Homo sapiens: one gene and its partners. The protein of the gene in region 4 purifies or fractionates together with the protein of the main gene of each other region. This does not show direct contact. Each region holds a gene or a part of one and is shown on either strand. Other genes may lie near its edges.

Region 1 (3,640 bases), on a different chromosome or scaffold from region 4:
TCTTCACCATTCTGCTCATGAATCTATTCACTGAATATTATATTTCTCAGTTCAAAATTTCCATTTGGTTCTTCTTTATATCTTCTATTTCTTTCCTGAGATTTTCTGTTTCTTCGCTGACTTTGTAATTTTTGTTTGTTTCAAGTGTGTTAGTAATTGCTCATTAGTTAGTAATTGCATTTTTATGGTGGTTGCTTTAAAATCTCTGGCAGATAATTGTAACATCTTTGTTATTTCAGTGTTACCGTTCATAGATTGTCTTTTTAAATTCAAGTTGAGATTTTTCTTGTTCTTAGCATGATGAGTGATTTTCAATTTCTTAAACCTGGACATTTTCGGTTTTATAGTAAGCCTCTGGATCTTAAATGTTGTTTTAGCTGACTTCCACTGACACTCTTCCAGCAGAGGGAGGACAGTACTGGACAGTTACTGGCAAGTGGGAAAAGCAGTCCAAGCTCCTTTTAGAAAGGAAGTAAGGGGAGAGGAGCTCCTCGTTACTTCTGGGTTGCACAGGTGTTCTAGCCCCCCTCCATGGCCTTTACTGCACACAGAAAGCATGGCCTCATGACCAATTGGCAGTGAGAAAGTCTTATCTTTCCACTAGACGTCTTCTGACACTACTCAAGCAGGACTGGAAGAGGCACCTCATTACTTCCAGGGGAGGGCAAAAGTCCAGGCTCCCCACATAGTCTTCACTGACACTGCTGGGTTGGGGGAGGGGGATGGGATCTTGTTAATGCAGGAGTAAAATTCCCAGCTTCCTAATAAGCCTTCTCTTACCCATTCCAACAGGTATTGAGGTACTTATTTAGAGCCTGCTGAGAGTTAAAATATAAGCTTCTCAATCAGCCTTAGCTGGCATATAAAGGGCCACAGTTTTTTCTGTGGTGTCTGGTTGAAATAGAGTAGATATTGTCTAAAACTTTTCTATCTTTCTAGGCTGCCCCTTTCCTAGTCCTTTGGCTACAGCAAGCAGACTTCTGTTGGCCTGTTTTATCGATGCCTGTTGGCATCTGTTGGTTGCCAAGTCTGGAATATATGTGGCAAAACAAAACAAAACAAAAACACCTAAGGAACTCACTACCATGTTGTTTCTTAGGTCCTGATGTCCATAGCCAGTGTGCCCTTTTTCTCAACACCTTTCAGAGTCTCGTGTTTGTTTTATATGTAATATCCAAGGTTTTTACTTGTTCTTAGAGGGAAGGAAAGGGAAAGCACCTGCTTCATCTTCCCCAAAGCAGGTCTTTTTTGCTCATTGTTTAACTGGGTTGTCTGTTTTCTTATTGAGGTTTGAATATTTGTTAAGTATTCTGGATTCAAGTCCTTTATTTGATATATGCCTCACAAATATTTTCTCCCAGTCTGTAACCTGTCTTTCCTGTCTATGATCAGTATTTTTTGAAGAGCAGAAGTTTTAAATTTTGAGGAATCCAATTTATCAACTTTTTTCTTTTATGGATTGCCCTTTGGTGTCATATCTGAGAAATCATCACCTATCACCTAATTACAAAGATTTTCCCCAATTTTTATTCTAGAAGTTTTGTATTTTTATGTTTGACATTTAGGCCTGTGATTCATCTTAATTTTTTCATATGGTATGAGGTATGAATCCTCATACCTCATGTTTTGCATATGGATACACAATCATTCCAGCATCATTTGTTGAACATATTACCTTTCCTCCATTTTATTGCCTTCGAATCTTAATTAAAAATCAGTTGTCCATATATTTGTGTCTATTTCTAGACTCTGTTTTGCTGATTTATCTATCTAGACCAGCATGATTACTGTAGTTTCTCATAATTCTTGAAACCAAGCATAGTGACTCTTCCAAATTTGTTTTTATCTTTCAAAGTTCTTTTGGCTATTCTAGGTTCTTGTGCTTTCTATACGAATTTTAGAATCAGCATGTCAACTCTTACAGGGAAAAAAGGTCTGCTTGGGTATTGACTGGGATTGTACTGACTTTATAGATCAACTTGGGGATAACTGATATTTTAATAATATTTAGTCTTCCAAACCACGAACAAGGTATATTTCATTTATTTAGGCCTTCTTTAAATTTATCTCAGCAATGTTTTAAAGTTTTCACTGTATAGGTTGTGTATGTATGTATTACTCAGCTTGGGCTGCCAGAACAAAAATCCATAGGCTGTGTGGCTTAAATAAGAATCATTTATTCTTCACAGTTCTGCAGGCTGGGAAATCCAAGATCAATGTGCCAGCTGATTCAGTTCCCTGGTGAGGGCTTTCTTCCTAGTTTGCCAACGGCTGACTTCTCACTGTGTCCTCACACGGCAGAGAGAATCAGAAAGCCTCTGGCATCTCCTTAAAAGGGCACTAATCGTATCATGAGGGTTCCATCTTCATAATCTCATCTACACCTAATTACTTCCCAAAAGCCCCATTTCCAAACACCATCACATTGGGGGTTAGGACTTCAACATATAAATTTTGGGAGTCACAATTCAGTCCATAGCAACATATTTGTCAGTCTTATCCCAAAGTACTATCATATGTTTTGAGATGCTATTACAAATTGTTTCTTATTTGCAATTTCCAAGGGTTTATTATTATGAAATGCATATACAATTCATTTTTGTATGTTGATATTCCATACTACAATTTTTCTAAATTCACCTTACTTCTAATAGCTTTCTGTAGATTCCATCTGATCTCTACATAGATGATCATGTCATTTACAAGAGTTTTAATTCTTTCCAATCTAGGTGTTTTTTATTTCTCTTTCTTAACTTACTGCATCAGAAAGAACCTGCAGTACAATGATCAGAGAAGTAATGAGATAATCCTTACCTAATATCTGATTTTAAGAGTAAAGCATTCAGACTCTCACTATTAAGTATGAGGTTAGCTGTAGGTTTTTCATAGAGGCCTTTTATCAGGTTAAGAAAGTTCCCTTCCATTCCTAGTTTTGAGAGTTTTTATGAGATATGGATGTAGAATTTTGCCAAATACTTTTCCCTGCATCTACTGAGAAGATAATATGCTTTTTGTCTTTTTGTTTGTTTTCTTTTTTTTAGTTTGTGAATGTGGGGAATTACAATGATTCATTTTCTAATGTTAAACTACCTTTTCATTCCTGGGATTCAGTCCATTTGATTAAGATGTCCTTTTTAAAAAATTACTAGATTTGACTTAGTAAAATGTTGTTTAAATTTTTTGATTTTATGTTCATGAGAGATGTTCAGTAGTTTTCTTTTAATTTCTTTGTCTTATTTTTCTATCACAGCAATATTAGCTTCATTAGCTTCATGAGGTGGTGAAGATTTCCTCCTCTTCAATTTTCTGGAAGAGTATCTCTAGATTGGTATTATTCCTTCTTTAATGTTTGGTAGAATTCACCAGTAAAACCATCTTGGCCTGGAGTTTTCTGTGTAGGAAGGTTTTTAACTATCAATTCAATTTCTGTAGTAGACACAGGGCTATTCAGATGATCTACTTCTTCTTGAGTAAAGTTTAATAGTTTTGTCTTTCAAAGATTTATCCATTTCATCTAAGCTGTCAAATGTATGAGCATAAAGTTATTCATAAAACTGCCTTATCTTTTTAACAGCTACAGAATCTGTAGTGATGACATCTGTCTCATTCCTGACATTTTTATTTGTCTTTTTTCCCTCAT
Region 2 (3,640 bases), on a different chromosome or scaffold from region 4:
GATGTCTGGAAGAAGTTGAGGCAGAAAAGACTGACAAAGTTGGAAGCATCCGGCCACAAAAGTGCCCTAAAGAATTCACTGCAGTGCTCTCCATTTCCAAGGCTGAGTAGCTATTCCCAGTAAGTTAACATTTTTCTATTAAGGAGAAAACGAAACAAAACAAAAATAAAACCCACTCCAGAAAAAGGGTCAAGAGAAGAGCACTGTAGAAAGTCAAGCAGCTGAGCGCCGGCGGATCACGAAGAGCCCGCGCTGAAGCTGGCCCAGGTAGATCCTCATCTTGGTGCTGTCACTTGTCTTCCTCACCCAGATCTGCAGGGGAGAGGAAAGGGAACAAGATGAAAAGTTAAATACAGAAGAGCAAATCTCCTACACCATCAAAATATCTGCACGAGTGAGATGCAAGCAGAAGGCTGGTAGCCTCTTGCTGGAATAAACTGTCTCAACTTGTGAGGGCTTCATAAGCACCCCTGACCTCGGGCCATCTAAAGGCATGCCGCTGGGAACAGGCATCAGCCTTGAACTCGTTTCTCAGCCATCTCTCTCACACCTGTGATTACGAAAATGGAAAGCACAGCAATCTTGGGTTCCATTTCTGCCTTGATCTTAAAGATGCTTTTAAATTTGGTTTGATTACTGTGTTATCAACACTCAAGAGACATCTATTCATAAACACAAACTTTCAAATTTGGAAGTATTTTCCTTGCTCCAAGGGACTTCCATATTATACAAACTTTCAATACTTTGGTTTCCTGGCAATGAAGGCTAATGGTTGTGCAGAAAAACAGGGAAAAAATATCAACAATAGAAAAATGCCCACTAATGAGCTAAGGCCCAATTAGGATCATGAGAAGGTTGAAGCACTTCCGAGAGTCCTTCCCTCCTCACCATATCCCCCTCTCACAGACAGTATTAGATTACAGTGCATTTTACAGGGCAGATGCATTCTTCCATTGAATTGAGAATGAACTCTTGCAACAGGGGACTGCCAGGGCTGACAAAGTGCACTCAATAAGGGGCATCCTAAAGCCATGGGTGAGAAGGGGAGCTGCTGCCAGTCACCTGACCCCCTGAGCCAGGGTTACTGAGCTCTGTGTGCCAGACACCATGCTGATCAGGCTGAGCTTTTTCACCCGCAAGACAACCCTATGAAATAACTACTATCATTGGCCCCATTTTAAAGAAGAGGAAACCAAAGCTCAGCAAGGCTGAGTCACTTATCACGACGTGAATTCTGGTGTCTGACATCAAAGCCCCTGGCTCTTCTCTACTAAAGCAGTCTCTGGCTTCTTCTTGCCTGTTTTTCTGTAACATGCAATTAAATAGAGCCAAAAGCACAGTTTTTTGAAAGGTCTGCATCTCACCCAAATATACAAGTTTACAGATTTATCTCCTCCTTCCTGGACTCAGTTTTCAGGTTTTAAAAAAGCTTATTCTGTTTCATCTCAATTTCTTTAATGTGATTATTCAGCAGTATCTCTACTGCTTTAAAGTCAAATACACTGGCTTAAAAATTTAAAAAGTTAAAGACCTCACATGAAGCTAAGCCTCCAAGGGACCTTGCAGAATCATTTTAAATGAAAAACTGATCCCAAGAAAAGCTAAGTCAGGGAGTCATCCACACACTCAGAGCTACCCACCAAACCTGCTTGGAGTCAAGCTATGCTAAAGCCAAGTAGCTCCAGTGTCACCTAGAATTTGATCTGAAAAATGAGCTGGAACACTTTCAAGAAATGAGAACGGTTTCCCCATTGCCAGAGTTGCATGTCTTCAGTGCACTGAAGCTTCTCCCCTCCAGAAGACGTGTTTCAGTGTCACCATTTGTCAGATCTCACTGACACTCTATTATGTCAAGACGCGACAATATTCGGCAGAGAGAGGGGAAAAACAATCTAACTTGCATTTATATTTTTCTGAAAAATCTTGAGGTATCATAGAGGAGAATAATGCACTGGTTCTGAAGTTAGGGTCAGGTACTAGAAGGCCACATGTGCTTGTGGAACAACCCAGACAGCCAGGTGCAAATGATTACCATGAAATCGTGACACCTCTTGGCTGAGGACCAGGTCTCTCTATTAGCTTCCCTGTTCTGGTTCTGACTTGGCTTGAGGGGACTCACACGGATCCTCAGCCCAGAGAAGAATGGCATTCATTTATCTAGAAGGCTCTCCCTAACTTCTAAGTAAACAATCATTTTGCAAACTAGTCACATTTCAGGGCATTTTCAATTCAGGAAGCTGGAAGAATAGAAGAGGCTTAAGTTACTTCATAATCCAGTTTCATTACATTTACTGTGCACTGGCACGAATAAGTTACAGAGGGCAGACACATAGAAATCAATTTCTTTGCAGACATTTGTGGACTGATAAAAGATCAAGCCAATCCAGCTATTAAAGTTTTTAACTTTAACTAACAACATAAGTTACACATTGCTTATATACTCCTCATGAAAGACCACTTGGAGAACTCAGAGGGCAGTCATATCATCCTCAGGTATAACCCTCTGAGCTGACTTTAAAACCAGACCCCATCCATCCTAAAGGAGTGTCTCGAGGAGACCAAAAACCAAGGGCATAACCCTGGCAACTTGTTTTGAAGCACAATAGGACATCTCAGCTAGGAAAGACGGCAGGCAAGTGGCGTGTGGGTCGTTTCAGGCCAGCACTCACTTAGTGAGCACTTACTGGGTGCTAGACCCTGTGCCAGGTGCCTCATTCAATCCTCACAGCAAGAAACAAATCTACTGGTATGTGTGAAAGTTCTAGAGAAACAAAACCAAGATGGAGTATGCTCCACAGTCAAGCTCCATTCTCAGTAGATGGTTACCTTAAAAAGAAGCAGGAGTTGGCCAGGTGTGGTGGCTCACGCCTGTAATCCCAGCACTTTGGGAGGCCGAGCTGGGTAGACCACGGGGTCAGGAGTTCAAGACCAGCCTGACCAACGTGGTGAAACCCCATCTCTACTTAAAAAAAAATACAAAAATTAGCCGGGCGTGGTGGTGGGTGCCTGTAATCCCAGCTACTCAGGAGGCTGAGGCAGGAGAATCACTTGAACCTGGGAGGTGGAAGTTGCAGTGAGCCAAGATAGCACAACTGTACTCCAGCCTGGGCAACAGAGTGAGACTCTGTCTCAAAAAAAATAAAAATAAAAAAAAAGAAGCAGGAGTTGAATGTACAGACACCACACAGACTTGCTTTTTGTTCTTTCCTGGAATCTAGCTCCGTGGTTCCCAAATCAGTAGCTGTACCGGGAGTTCACAAATACCCCATGGAATAGACAAATCCGCATATGTTGTAGTCAAGCGAATGTAAGGACTTTTCAAGGATGATTTTGACAATGTGCAATTTCTGCCTGACTTTAGAATCTAACCCACATAGAAGACAGTACTCCACTGTACTTCCTTGGTGGCACTTTCATTTCAGGTTTGCCCTACCAACACTTCGCAGTACACATTTTGCTTCCCTAAAGGTGAGGGAGTGTGGTTCCCACCTCATTGGCTCCTACAGAACTGATCACGCAGCTCAGTTTCTGGTTGTCCTTTGACTCCAGATAGATGGCCTGGCTCTTGTGGTACCTGACAAAAACAAGGCACACATTTTTAAAAAGGGAGGGACAGAGACAGGAAGTAAAAACCAAACAA
Region 3 (3,640 bases), on a different chromosome or scaffold from region 4:
GCCAGGCATGGTGGCCCATGCCTGTAATCCCAGCACTTGGGGAGGCTGAGGCAGGCGGATCACCTGAGTTCAGGAGTTTGAGACCAGGTTGGCCAACATGGTGAAATCCTGTCTCTATTAAAAATACAAAAAATTGGGCTGGGCGCGGTGGCTCATGCCTGTAATCCCATCACTTTGGAAGCCCGAGGCAGGTGGATCACAAGGTCAGGAGTTTTAAGACCAGCCTGGTCAAGATGGTGAAACCTCGTCTCCACTAAAAATACAAAAAAAAAATAACCGGACATGGTGGTGGGTGCCTGTAATCCCAGCTACTCAGAGGCTGAGGCAGAGAATTGCTTGAACCTGGGAGGCGGAGGCTGCAGTGAGCCGAGATCATGCCACTGTGCTCCAGGCTGGGCAATAGAGCAAGACTCCATTTCAAAAAAGAAATACAAAAAATGAGCCAGGCATGGTGGTGAGCGCCTGTAATCCCAGCTACTTGGGAGGCTAAGGCAGGAGAATCACTTGAACCTGGGAAGTGGAGGTTGCAGTGGGCCGAGATCCTGCCACTATACTCCAGCCTGCGCAACAGCGCAAGACTCCATCTCAAAAAAAAAAAAAAAGAAAGAAAAAGGGTACTGTGGAGCTGGGCCATGACGGCTCCACGAGAAAGCCCATGAGAAACAAATGTTCCCCAGTCAGGAGAGGGTGCTACACCCAGGACAGGTGCCACGGCCAGGGGAGCCTGGGCGAGGGGTACGTGAGACCTCTGTCTTATGCTGGCAACTTCCTGTTTGCAATTTCCCATTTGAAATCACAGAATTCTCTTAAAATGAAAAGCCAGAAAGAAAAGTAACAGGACATGTCAGATCATGAGCTGTGACCCCTAACCCCAGGCACCCCCCGGGGCCTCCCGGCAGGCTTTGGAGCCTTACTGGGCTGCTTCAGCCGCAGCTCCATGGCGGGGTCGCTGCCCTTCTCCCTGCGGCCCTCACACAGCAGCTTCTCCCGCTCCTTCTCGGTCCGATACTCCAGAAGCTGCTTCTGCGCCTGGCGGTAGATCTTCAGCAGCCTGGAGCACAGGGTCTGGTGCAGGCGCAGGAAGAAGTACCAGTTGTTGTTGGCAAAAAATAGGCTGTAGACATCGTCCAGGGGCTTGTGCGGGGCTGGGGGCGGCAGGGGTGGCTGCTCAGTGGCCGGGGCATCCCCGAAGGCCCCCTTCTCCTCTGGGGGGCTACTGTGGGGTCCTGGCGCCGGCTTCTTCCGCTCACTGGGGTCTGTGGTCTGCCCCTGGGGGCTGTCCCGGTCCTCATCAGCTGACTCCTCGGAGGCGCCCAGGTCCAGCTGCTGAGAGAAGAAGAGGCTGGGCACGAACTGGTGCAGCAGCTGGTGGATGGTGCCCTGGTCCTCCTTCTGGATGGCCGGCTGCCGCTTCACGTAGTAGCTGATGAGCGCTGCTGCGTCCTCCAGGATCTGCCGGTCCTCGTACACAAAGATGAGGTGCGGCTCGCTAGAGGGGGCACTGCGGCCCTCCGAGTGCTGCTCCTGGTGCTGTGGGGGGAAGGGCGGCCATTAGGTGGAAAGCCACCCAGCACCCAGAGGACCCCCAGTGCCCATTCACGACTCGCTGTTAACTGGGCCACCAAGGTGGATGAGCGCTGCCCAGAGCAGGATGGGTGGCGAACATCGGTGAGGCAGCAGGGCCTGGGGGGTAGGTCGCTTGCCTCAACCTCTTGTGCAGCCCCATGTGCTCCTGGTCCCCTCTCCGAAAGTGAGGCAGACCCAAGTCATCCCGGGACCCCAGACAAAGGAGCCAAGAGGATTCTGAGATGTGGGGCGGGGTTCACAGGGGGTCTGACAGCGTCAAGCCTGGGTCTGTCGCTCAGCCCAGCTCCAGGACAGAACGGGGCCCCGTGGCTCAGCATGGAGAAGCCTCTGAGGCTGACCTCCTCCTACTGAAAGCAACGGTGGCGCCTGATTCCAGCTCGACCGGGGCTGCCCACACCATGCTATCGATGAAGTCAAGGAGGCAAAGGGTGAGCCGTGACCTCTCTGCCTCTGCCCTCCATCTACTACCCGGAAGGCCTGCAACTGCTCACATCTGAAGACCTGCACGCCCATCGTCACCAAGCCCCCGCCTCCGCTGCTGTCCCCGCCAGCCCCTGCACGTGCTTGCTACCACCATCATGTCACCAGCCCTCCCACCAGCTCCCACCAGCCTGCTCCAACCACTCTCCTCACTGGGTCCAGGGTGACTTGGCCCACAGGAGCATGGTCACCCCAACTAATGCCCTTCAGGCTTTCCCAGGCTGCTCAGAAGACGCCGGCCCCTGATGTGCCCCTCCACAGCTCCTCCAGCCTCACCGCGCCAAGCTCCCTCCTGCGTGTGCAGGGCCTTTGCACATGCCCATCTGCTCTCACTCCCTGGAAAACCCTGTCCCAGGCTCACCCCTCCCCTTGGTCTTTATCTAGATCATGACTTTCATTCCCTCACACCATTAGACAATCACCCCTTCCTCCAGCCTCCCACACCACTGTCCTGGCACCCAGGGCCTCTGCTGGGCAGCCCCAACCCCCTCAGTCCAAGGCAGGGAGGCAGACGCAGCAGGGCTCTTGGGGAAAATGAGCGTGGATGCCATCTCTGCAGGCTCCCGAGGGAAGGACCGGGTCTCCTAGCAGCCTGAGGTTTCCCTTCCTCCTCCCCTGCAAGGCGGCTTAGAGGCTGGTAGGGCCAAGCACACTGACCTGGTTCCTAGGAGTCTGCACGCTCAGCCCTGCTCTGGGCTCTTCAGTGTGACCATCGCCCTCTGACTGCTTCCTAAGTCCCCCAGGTCTCATTTATGCCATAAACACTCTGAAAATTCCTTTACAGTCCCCTCTGAAGCAGGGTCCCCATGTCCATGATCTGTAACCATGCTTTGTAAATCACGTGATGGAATGGGGTTCTGACTTTGGAATTCATCAAGGACCTGCATGTGCAGAGATCTGCATATGAACCTTGGTGCCCCTCCCTTTGTCAGCCCCAGCCCCAGGGAGGGATCCAGGAACTCAGGGTCGCATTGGTGGATTTCCAGGGCTACTTCATCATCTGCACTTTGCAGACACCACAGACCCACAGAACCTATACGGGGTCTTGGGCTTGAGGATCGCCGAGGACTAGAGTGAGGAAGCCAGAGTGGTTGTGGGTGGGCCTGGGGCGAGGGTGGCCCACGGGAAGGGAGGTGGGAGGGAAGGGGGTCCCCACAGTCCCACAGGCTCTGGGAGAGGCCTTGGGCCAGCAGCCCGGCTCCTGTGGATTCCGTTTCTGTGTTGTAAAAGAAGGAGCGACCGCTCACTGTGCAGTGACAGGAGCAAGAAACCAAATCAGGTGAGGCAACACCCCCTGCCCAGGTGGGCACCAGGCTGATAACGCAGCCCGTGCCATGATCTGGGCACTGCCTGGGGAGTAGTGTGCCCTCCTAAGCCACCTCCTCAGAGTGTCCAAGGACCTTCCCGACAGCTGGCTATCACCACGCCCGGCACCCTGCCAAGCTTCCCACCTCAGGATCCTGCAAGCAGGCACTCCCTACACACAGCTACTAACAGGCCCAGCTCCTGGCAACCTGAGGGCCCCGCTGGCCTTGGTTCTATGACTCAGGCCTTGTGAGCCTGCAGTGAGGAC
Region 4 (2,576 bases):
TACGCATGCTTAAGACTTCTATTTCCAAGATGTGTAGAAAACAAAACAAAAAAGTCATAAAACTGTTTCAGATATTAGGTCTTAAAGAGAGCACACCTTCCAGGATTTTCCAGGTTCGTTTTCCCGTCAAGTCTAATCCAAACTTTGGCATTTCTATTAGGAAGTCGTTTCTTTTCTCCCATCTGCCAAGGCAGATTTACGTATGAAAAAGTGGTGACTTCTATGTAAGTCGCATCTGAAGGCTTTGGGGGTTTTGTCCATACTGATATTTTTAATGGTGTCAAGTAAAAAGCTCCATTCTGGTAACAAGGTTGTAATCACTAAAACAAAATGCCATATTCTCAAAAGGATTTCCTTACAACTCAGCTAAGTTATGGTGATGAGAAAGGATTTGCTAAATTCTTAATCATGCTGTCTAACATTTCTCACTCAAAAGGTAATAGAATCAACTAGCTCTAGTCATGAATCCAAATATTCTTAGGACAGAAGCTAACAAATATTGCACATTTACCCATCTCCAAACTCACCTTTAAACTATCTTTATACCTCAGAATGAAGGACAAAATTAATGAAAAGAGAAGTCATGTCATTATTAAAATCCTCACTATAGTGCAAATAGTAGAAATTTCCAAGGAATCTCGGAGATATTTAAGCCAACTCATTTTACAGGTGAATGACCTGACACCCAGACAAGGTGAAATGACATGCCTAAAAGTCACACAGGAGAGCTAGAAGAGAAAAAAAGCATTTTTTTTTCCCAAAACAAGCAGACAGGATTTTTCATGTTAATCAAAAAGAATCAAGATCATCAGATTAGGAAGAAATGAGGAATAAAACATACGTTACACACAGATTTAAAGAACTAGTCAATCTGCTGCCCCCAAAACCAAAACCTTCTCTAAACATATGGACATATATCCATCAAGATGCTTACCCTTCAAATATCAGAATCTTGGAAAATTCAATTTACAAATACATTAATTGCATTATGATGATGAAATAAGTTAATTAAATGTGAAAACATCAAACAGCACCAATACTAGAAGTTAAGACAGTAAATACACTATTATTTAAAATAGTCACTGATTGGGACAGAAATGAACAATAACCACTAGCAAAACCATTTAAAACAACTCTCTGACATAAAGGCAATATTTAAAGACTACTATATGCCCCTTTCCACTGATAGGCCTGTGGCTACGCATCCTGGCAGCAGGTCACATGGAAAATACTATTAATTAAGATGTATTTTTAAATTGTTCAACCTTGAGCCGTGATACTATATAACCCAAAGTTTGCCAATGTAAGCCAATGTATATTTTTGGTATGCTAACTACTCTTACCTGTCCCAATTAAAAGAAAACACAAAACAACTCCCTTATTAAGCACTAGACTAAGTATATCTACAAAGCAGCAGCAAGGCATTGACAAATGGGCTACTGACAGTGGATCAAAATGCTACTAAGCAAAAGACAGCAGCACGTACTCTCATAAGAGCACATTATTCCACATGGAATCCCAAATTACTCTTATCTCCAGTTCCTTAAACTCCTAGAAGACTAGAGATGAACAAGCCAACGTATAAATAGGACTAGGGAAAAAGCAGCTCAAATGGCATAGTGTCTGTATTTTAAAGTACCCAAGATCATTTGATGCTTAAGAGAAATCCCACTACATCTAACATTTTTTTAAGCATGTATAACTAAAATGCTAGTGAAACTTTTGTGTTTACCCAAAAAATAACATTGCAGTTTTAAGTGAAAATGAAATAGGCATGGTTTGTGAAATTTTTATAATGTTTACACCACCCTCTTCCTGTTCCCTGCTCCTTTCATCAGGTGATCTGAAGACTACCTGGTTGGAAATATTTGGTAACTCAGTGCAGAAAATTAAGGTCACAGACAAAGTACAACAACTTTTAATACACCATTAATACTAATGATTAAAAATTATTGCATAGTCTTATGCATTTACCCTAAAACATTTTCTGAAAGCAAACGAATTATATAAAAGACAAATAACCCTTTAAAATGTGGATGGCCTTTACTACCTCGATCTTCTATCCTTTTTTGTCTTTTCAGTACTTTTGTCCATTGTTTTCTCATTATCTCCCCTGCACTTTGGGCAATACCATTTCCCCTTTGGTTTATAGGTAAGTGAAACACATGAAAAGTGAAACCATTCAATTGGACACTGTTCATTGTCACATCCTATCATCTCCCCATAAGACACTTGGTTGCATAAGCAGTATGTAGGTTCATTAGGATCTATTGCAAACTCAACAGGTGAAGCTTCCCTTTCCTGCTTGGCCTTGGAGCGTTTCTTTTTCTTTGCTGACTTGGATTTCTTTTCTTTAGGTGGCTGATCATCACAGTCTTCAATCCCATTTGCCATGTGACATAAATCACGGCTTTCACTGGTCCGCTGCCTGCGGGGTCTTCTTGAAGATCTTTCTGGTTGGCTGGAATCCATCTTTGCTTTATCTGAGGCTCGTTCACTTTCAGCAGGATCTTGGAAACACTGTGAGTGTAACTCCATTTGTCTTGCCCGATTTTCCACCAATTCGAGCATTTGTG

Evidence for each region. The genes of interacting proteins can lie anywhere in the genome.
Region 1: the proteins of ING2 (region 4) and TARS3 purify together in Homo sapiens (affinity purification with mass spectrometry; 2 studies listed by BioGRID and IntAct, with this or other methods). This does not show direct contact.
Region 2: the proteins of ING2 (region 4) and SUDS3 purify together in Homo sapiens (affinity purification with mass spectrometry; 3 studies listed by BioGRID and IntAct, with this or other methods). This does not show direct contact.
Region 3: the proteins of ING2 (region 4) and SIN3B purify together in Homo sapiens (affinity purification with mass spectrometry; 2 studies listed by BioGRID and IntAct, with this or other methods). This does not show direct contact.

Annotation. Positions count from the first base shown.
Region 1 is NC_000015.10:101,679,382-101,683,021, forward strand, and holds part of TARS3 (threonine--tRNA ligase 2, cytoplasmic), read right to left. Parts: intron 1-3,640. UniProt on the Homo sapiens protein: Catalyzes the attachment of threonine to tRNA(Thr) in a two-step reaction: threonine is first activated by ATP to form Thr-AMP and then transferred to the acceptor end of tRNA(Thr).
Region 2 is NC_000012.12:118,411,007-118,414,646, reverse strand, and holds part of SUDS3 (sin3 histone deacetylase corepressor complex component SDS3), read right to left. Parts: intron 3,575-3,640; coding exon 3,490-3,574; intron 313-3,489; coding exon 214-312; 3' UTR 1-213.
Region 3 is NC_000019.10:16,867,350-16,870,989, reverse strand, and holds part of SIN3B (paired amphipathic helix protein Sin3b), read right to left. Parts: intron 1,531-3,640; coding exon 915-1,530; intron 1-914.
Region 4 is NC_000004.12:183,510,423-183,512,998, reverse strand, and holds the end of ING2 (inhibitor of growth protein 2), read right to left. Parts: coding exon 2,047-2,576; 3' UTR 570-2,046; downstream 1-569. UniProt on the Homo sapiens protein: Seems to be involved in p53/TP53 activation and p53/TP53-dependent apoptotic pathways, probably by enhancing acetylation of p53/TP53. Component of a mSin3A-like corepressor complex, which is probably involved in deacetylation of nucleosomal histones.